2 linked regions of the Homo sapiens genome follow. The protein of the gene in region 1 interacts with the protein of each later gene in a pairwise test. Each region holds a gene or a part of one and is shown in the gene's direction. Other genes may lie near its edges.

Region 1 (3,725 bases):
CTTTAGGGTGGTGGCCAGACACATCTCGCTCCATTCCCACTCACTGTTTTTCAGAACTATTTTCCAAGCCCGAACTGGAATCTTCCTTCACACATCTGGACCAAGGTGAAAGACTGAACCTGTCCTGCTCCATCCCAGGAGCACCTCCAGCCAACTTCACCATCCAGAAGGAAGATACGATTGTGTCACAGACTCAAGATTTCACCAAGATAGCCTCAAAGTCGGACAGTGGGACGTATATCTGCACTGCAGGTATTGACAAAGTGGTCAAGAAAAGCAACACAGTCCAGATAGTCGTATGTGGTGAGTATATTGTTGCTGACTCAGAGGACATCCAGGGTTGAATGGGAGAAAGGAAATTTATCTGCAGCTGCCGCCCTCTCCGGTCTGAGCAGACTCAGGCAGGGTAAGAACTAGAGGGAGAGAAGTGCGAAATCAAAGGCCAAAGAAACAAGGAGGTATTCCTGCTCAGAACACTGATTCACTGATGATGATGTGGCCTCTGACTTGCTAAGATTCTGGCAAGATTCTGCCTCCTGGAGCAAGTACCCACCCAAAAGTTCAGGAAGGAAACACTACTTAGTCAATGTTAAACTTTTCTTTTTTTTTTTTTTGAGACGTGTCGCCCAGGCTAGAGTGCAGTGGCACGATAGCTCACTGCAACCTCTGCCTCCTAGGTTCAAGTGATCTCCTGCCTCAGCCTCCCAAGTAGCTGGGATTACAGGTGCCCACCACCATGTCTGCCTAATTTTTGTATTTTTATTTTTATTACTTTTATTTATTTATTTATTTATTTTTTTGAGATGCAGTCTCGCTCTGTCACCCAGGCTGGAGTGCAGTGGCACAATCTGGGCTCACTGCAAGCTCCGCCTCCTGGGTTCACGCCATTCTCCTGCCTCAGCCTCCCAAGTAGCTGGGACTACAGGCACCCGCAACCACGCCCGGATAATATTTTTTTGTATTTTTAGTAGAGATGGGGTTTCACCGTGTTAGCCAGGATGGTCTCCATCTCCTGACCTCGTGATCTGCCTGCCTCAGCCTCCCAAAGTCCTGGGATTACAGGCCTGAGCCACCACACCCGGCCAAGAATATCAAAATTCCATTTTTTAAATCTGTATCCTGGCTAACCCAAAAGGGTAAGACTTCCAGTGGACAGAATGTAGGTATTTGACCACCAGGAGCTGGGCTTCTCAGGCCTGAATGTGCATGCAAGACCTGGTTAAAATACAGGTTATGATTCAGTATTTTAGGCCCAGATGGGGCCAGGTTCTGCATCTCTAACTAGCATTTTGGTGATGTGGATGCTGTTGGTCTCTGGACCACACTTTGGGTGGCGAGATTCTGGTTGATTATAGAACTCCAGTCAAGTTGTCACTGTCACTATATTATTCAGTCACGATCCTTTCATTTAACCTGTGGCTGTGTTTTATCCAGCTAAGATTTTATTATAGCTTCAACTGAACCAGGATTTTAGCCTATTTTTAATGCTCTAACCACCTAACTCAAAAGGCAGGAATGCAAGAGACAAATGTGTGTTATAACGTTTTATTTTATTTTTTGTTCTTGGGAGGAGGAAATCTCATTGTATAAGGTTTAAATAAACTAATGCCTAAATAATGACCTAATATAATTCTTATCTGTTAAGAGGCTGAAGCACTAAGAAGACTTTTTTTATCTTTTTTTTTTTTTTTTTTTTTTGAGATGGAGTTTTGCTCTTGTTACCCAGGCTGGAGTGCAATGACATGATCTCGGCTCACTGCAACCTCTGCCTCCCGGGTTCAAGCGATTCTCCTGCCTCAGCCTCCCGAGTAGCTAGGATTACAGGCATGTGCCACCTTGCCCAGCTAATTTTGTATTTTCAGTAGAGACGGGGTTTCTCTACATTGGTCAGGCTGGTCTTAAAGTCCTGACCTCAGGTGATCTGCCCACCTCGGCCTCCCAAAGTGCTGGGATTACAGGCATGAGCCACCGTGACTGGCTGAGAATAATTTAAAAACATATATATTGGCTGGACCTGGTGGCTCACACCTGTAATCCCAACAATTTGGCAGGCCAAGGTGGGTGGATCACCTGAGGTCAGGAGTTTGAGGCCAGCCTGGCCAACATGGTGAAACCCCCTCTCTACTAAAAATACAAAAGTTAGCCGGGTGTGGTGGCACATGCCTGTAATCCCAGCTACTCGGGAGGCTGAGGCAGGAGAATCCCTTGGACCCAGGAGGTGGAGGTTGTGGTCAGCTGAGATTGCGCCATTGCACTCCAGCCTGGGTGACAGAGCAAGACTCGGTCTCAGAACACACACACACACACACACACACACACACATATATGCTCAGCCAGGTGTGGTGGCTCATACTTATAATCCCAGCACTTTGGGCAGCTGATGTGGGAGGATCACTTGAGTCCAGGAGTTCAAGACCAGCCTGAGCACATAGTGAGACCCTGTCTCTACAAAAAATAAAGAATTAGCCAGGTGTGGTGTGCACCTATAGTCCCAGCTACTCGGGAGGCTGAGGTAGGAGGATTGCTTGATTCTGGGAGGTTGTAGTGAGCTGTCATCGCACCAGTGCACTCCAGCCTGGGTAATAGAGTGAGACCCTGTCTCAAATACACACACACACACACACACACACACACACATTTTGTTGGCTACTTGTTGTACTTTTTCTATGTTTTCTGTGTCTTTGCTCAACACAAGAAAAGTATATTATGTGTGCATGTGCGTGTGAGATATGGTAAAATATGAACATGTATTTCTGGGGATGTAATGTTTTCCTTGAATTTCTGTCATTCTCTGTTTTGCTTATTGTACTTCTCTTTCCCTTTCCCTTCTCACCACACACACACACACACACACACACACACACACACAGCCTGTCAGTCTCATAGGTGTCCTATAAAGGTAAATAAGGCAGGCAGGCATTTGAAATTACAGCAGGGATAGAAAGCAAAGCTCAGGCTTTGGAGGAGGAACCTCTTGTGCTGGATGCTTTGCTTTTACCTTCAGTGCCTTTTGGATTGTTTCTCCCTCTGTTCTAGAAATGCTCTCCCAGCCCAGGATTTCTTATGATGCCCAGTTTGAGGTCATAAAAGGACAGACCATCGAAGTCCGTTGCGAATCGATCAGTGGAACTTTGCCTATTTCTTACCAACTTTTAAAAACAAGTAAAGTTTTGGAGAATAGTACCAAGAACTCAAATGATCCTGCGGTATTCAAAGACAACCCCACTGAAGACGTCGAATACCAGTGTGTTGCAGATAATTGCCATTCCCATGCCAAAATGTTAAGTGAGGTTCTGAGGGTGAAGGTGATAGGTAAGTTGCTGTGCTGTGAGAAGAAATCATGTGGGCTTGGGGCATTCTTTCACGCCCAGGGACTGTGGGAACAATAAGAGAAGTAGGGGGCCAGGTGCGGTGGCTCATGCCTGTAATCCCAGCACTTTAGGAGGCCAAGGCCGGTGAATCATTGAGGCCAGGAGTTCAAGACCAGCCTGGCCAACATGGTGAAACCCCATCTCTACTAAAAATACAAAAATTAGCTGGGCATGGTGGCGTGCGCCTATAATCCCAGCCACTCGGGAGGCTGAGGCAGGAGAATTGCTTGAACCCAGGAAGCAGAGGTTGCACTGAGCCAAGTTGCGCCATTGCACTCCAGCCTGAGCAACAAGAGCGAAACTCCATCTAAAAAAAAAAAAAGCGAGAGAAGTAGTGGGTGCTTATGCAAAGTC
Region 2 (3,696 bases), about 23 Mb from region 1:
TTTTTTTTTTTTTTGAGATGGAGTCTCGCTCTGTCACCCAGGCTCACTGCAACCTCCGCCTCCTGGGTTCAAGTGATTCTCCTGCCTCAGCCTCCTGAGTAGCCAGGATTACAGGCGTGTGCCACCACCCCCGGCTGATTTTTGTATTTTTAGTAGAGACAGGGTTTCACCATGTTGCGCAGGCTGGTCTTGATCTCCTGACCTCGTGATTCGCCCGCCCCGGCCTCCCAAAGTGCTGGGATTACAGGCGTGAGCCACCTCACCTGGCCCAAACCAAGCACTTTCATTAACTATTTTTACTTAATCCTTATGGCTGGCCAGGCTGGATGGCTCAGACCTGCAATCCCAGCACGTTAGGAGGCCCAGAAGGGTGGACTGCTTGATTGAGCCCAGGAGTTCCAGACCAGCCTGGGCAACATGGAGAAACCCTGTCTCTACAAAAAAATAGAAAAATTAGCCGGGCGTGGTGGTGCATGCCTGTGGTCCCAGCTACTGGGAATGTTGAGGTGGGAGGATTACCTGAGCCCAGGGAAGTCAAGGCTGCAGTGAGCTGTGTCACTGTATTCCAGCCTGGGCAACAGAGTGAGTCCCTGACTCAAAAAAAAAAAAAAAACAAAAAAAACGCGTATCATTATTCGCATTCTACAGAGGAGGAAATTGAAACTCAAGGAACTTAAGTAATTTCCCCAATGTTGTACAGCGAGACCCAAGCAGCACCAAGACTGACGTTTGGGTCCTCTGATTCCAAGCCCAGAACCCATCCTGCTGTATTGCCCCATGCAGCTCTGGAAAGGATTTTTTTTTTTTTTTTGAGATGGAGTCACGCTCTGCCACCCAGGCTGGAGTGCAGTGGCGCGATCTCGGCTCACTGTAACGTCTACCTCCTGGGTTCAAGCGATTCTCCTGTCTCAGCCTCCCGAGTAGCTGGGATTACAGGCATGCACCACCACACTAGGCTAATTTTTGTATTTTTAGTAGAGATGGGGTTTCACCATGTTGGTCAGGATGGTCTCGAACTCCTGACCTTCAGGAGATCCGCCCGCCTCAGCCTCCCAAAGTGCTGGGATTACAGGTGTGAGCGGAAAGGATTTTTCTGCACCCCCTTTTGAGAGCCTCTGCCTGACTGGGGAGAAGAGAATTCAGAAGGGCCCATGAAGGCATGTGTGAGTGGTGAATGTAGGGCAGGTTTTGTAGGTGGGGGTGATACCTGTCCTGGCCACCAGCCCACTTAAATCTCCCCAGTGGCTTGATTTTTAGTTTCCGGTGGAAGCGGCTTCTCCCCAAGGCCAGGGCTGTGGTGAGTGTTGGGGGGAGGTTGAGAGGGAAAGAGGAGGCAGGGGTCAAAGCTGTGCTGCCTCCTAGCTTGGGTTAGGTAGAACCATGGCTGTTCTGGGCTTGTTCATGTGTAGGAAGTGGGAGTTGCCTGCTTTGCTGGGGGCTGGGGCTATGCCAAGATAAAGGGGTGCTGCCCTGTGGGGATTGGCGAGAAACGAGAGTCCGATTTAGGCCTGGGCTAATGTCCTGCTGGAGTTGACGAGGCAGTGCTGCCAGGCTGCTCTTGATGGGGAACTGGCTGTCCTCTGCTCTGAAGCCCAAGAGACCTGAGATAGGCAGCTGCTGGGAGGGCTTTTCTGGTGATGGAGGTGGGGGTCATGTGTGCTGCCTGTCAGCCAGAGCCTTGGCCCTCTAGGGAGGAGCTGGTGTCAGATTGTTCTCCAGACCTGCCTGGTTCTGGTGTCTCTGCCAACTGGACATCTGACACCAGAATGGGCCTGGATTTGGGGTCTGGGAAATGGGTTCTCTTTATGTGATGGTGCAGCCGGAGTACTGAACCTGTCACTACCGCGCTTCTGGATTCCCTGAGGGCAGGCGGGGACCCCAGGCAACGGGATTATTGATCGTGGAGAAGGCTAATGGGACTTGAGACAGAGAAGAAAACAGAATGAACCCCATCCCACTGACTACTACAAAGAGGGCATGAGGTTGCAGTTTTTCCATCTCCCCCGAGGACTTGAGAGCTGCAGGCCCGATGCACTTACTGAAGGGACGCAGTCTAGACAGGAGGAGGGGCTTTCTGCCTGCTAAAGATGAAATCTTGAGTTGAGAAATAAGAGGGAGAGGTGGAGACTCAGCATTGACTCTTCTCTGATGAGGGCCATCCTGTGCGGCAGGGAGGCCAGACAGGAATTGCTGCCCTTTGGGGAGACTCCTCATTTGTATCTTTTGGGAGAAGAGCGACCTGGCAGTGAGAGGGAAAGGCATCTGTGAGCTGGTCCTGTGACCCCTGTGAAGAGGAAAAGCAAGCAGTGTGGCTGGGCAGGTCACCAGGGCTTGTGTTCCTGCAAGTGACACTGAGCGGCCTCTCCTGGGACATGGTTGAGTCTGGGGACATGGAATATCTTATTGTGAAGCGACTTCCTCTGCCAGGCCTGAAGGGCAAGCTCATGGACCACTCTCCTTTGCTCAGCCTCCTGGCATCTTGGCCTTTGGGGCCAGCAGAGCAGGAAGCTCAGCTTTCTTTTTCTCTTTCTTTCTTTCTTTTTTTTTTTTTGAGATGGAGTCTCTCACTCTGTCACCCAGACTGGAGTGTAGTGGCACAATCTTGGCTCACTGCAACCTCCATCTCCCGGGTTCAGGTGATTCTCCTGTCTCAGCCTCCCGCGTAGCTGGGACTACAAGCGCCTGCCAGTACGCCCAGCTAATTTTTTTTTTTTTTTTTTTTTGAGACGGAGTCTCACTCACTCTGTCGCCCAGGCTGGAGTGCAGTGGCACGATCTCCGCTCGCTGCAAGCTCCGCCCCCTGGGTTCACACCATTCTCCTGCCTTAGCCTCCCGAGTAGCTGGGACTACAGGCGCCCGCCACCACGCCTGGCTAATTTTTTTGTGTTTTTAGTAGAGACGGGGTTTCACTGTGTTTGCCAGGATGGTCTCGATCTCCTGACCTCATGATCCACCCGCCTCGGCCTCCCAAAGTGCTGGGATTACAGGCGTGAGCCACTGTGCCCGGCCTAATTTTTGTATTTTTAGTAGAGACGGGGTTTCACCATATTGGTCAGGCTGGTCTTGAACTCCTGACCTCAGGTGATCCACTCACCTTGGCCTCCCGACATGCTGGGATTATAAGCGTGAGCCACCGCTTTTGGCACTCAGCTTTCTTTCCTCCTCCCTTCTCCTCTTCTCTTTTCTTTCTTTTTTTTTTTTGGTTTGTTTTTTGAGATGGAGTCCTGCTCTGTCGCCCAGGCTGGAGTGCAGTAGTGCAGTCTTGGCTCACTGCAACCTCTGCCTCCTAGGTTCAAGCAATTCTCCTGCCTCATCCTCCTAAGTAGCTGGGACTACAGGCATGCGCCACCATGCCCAGCTAATTTTTGTATTTTTAGTAGAGATGGGGGTGTCACTATGTTGGCCAGGCTGGTCTTGAATTCCTGACCTCAAGTGATCCACCCACCTCAGCCTCCCAAAGTGCTGGGATTACAGGCGTGAGCCACTGCGCCCGGCCTTCTTTCCTTTTTTTGAGGTAGGGACTCGCTCTGTCCCTTAGGCTAGAGTGCAGTGGCGTGATCACAGCTCACTGCATCCTTGAATTCCTGGGTTCAAGCAATCCTCCCGCCCAGCCTCCCAAGTAGCTGGGTCCACAGGTGTGCACCACCATGCCCAGCTAATTTTTAAAGTTTTGTGTAGAGACAGGGTCTTGCTATG

Evidence for each region. The genes of interacting proteins can lie anywhere in the genome.
Region 2: the proteins of PECAM1 (region 1) and JUP interact in binary tests that used the Homo sapiens proteins (3 or more experiments, as listed by UniProt).

What each region holds. Positions count from the first base shown.
Region 1 is NC_000017.11:64,359,727-64,363,451, reverse strand, and holds part of PECAM1 (platelet endothelial cell adhesion molecule precursor), read left to right. Parts: intron 1-54; coding exon 55-303; intron 304-3,036; coding exon 3,037-3,312; intron 3,313-3,725. UniProt on the Homo sapiens protein: Cell adhesion molecule which is required for leukocyte transendothelial migration (TEM) under most inflammatory conditions.
Region 2 is NC_000017.11:41,780,212-41,783,907, reverse strand, and holds part of JUP (junction plakoglobin), read left to right. Parts: intron 1-3,696. UniProt on the Homo sapiens protein: Common junctional plaque protein. The membrane-associated plaques are architectural elements in an important strategic position to influence the arrangement and function of both the cytoskeleton and the cells within the tissue.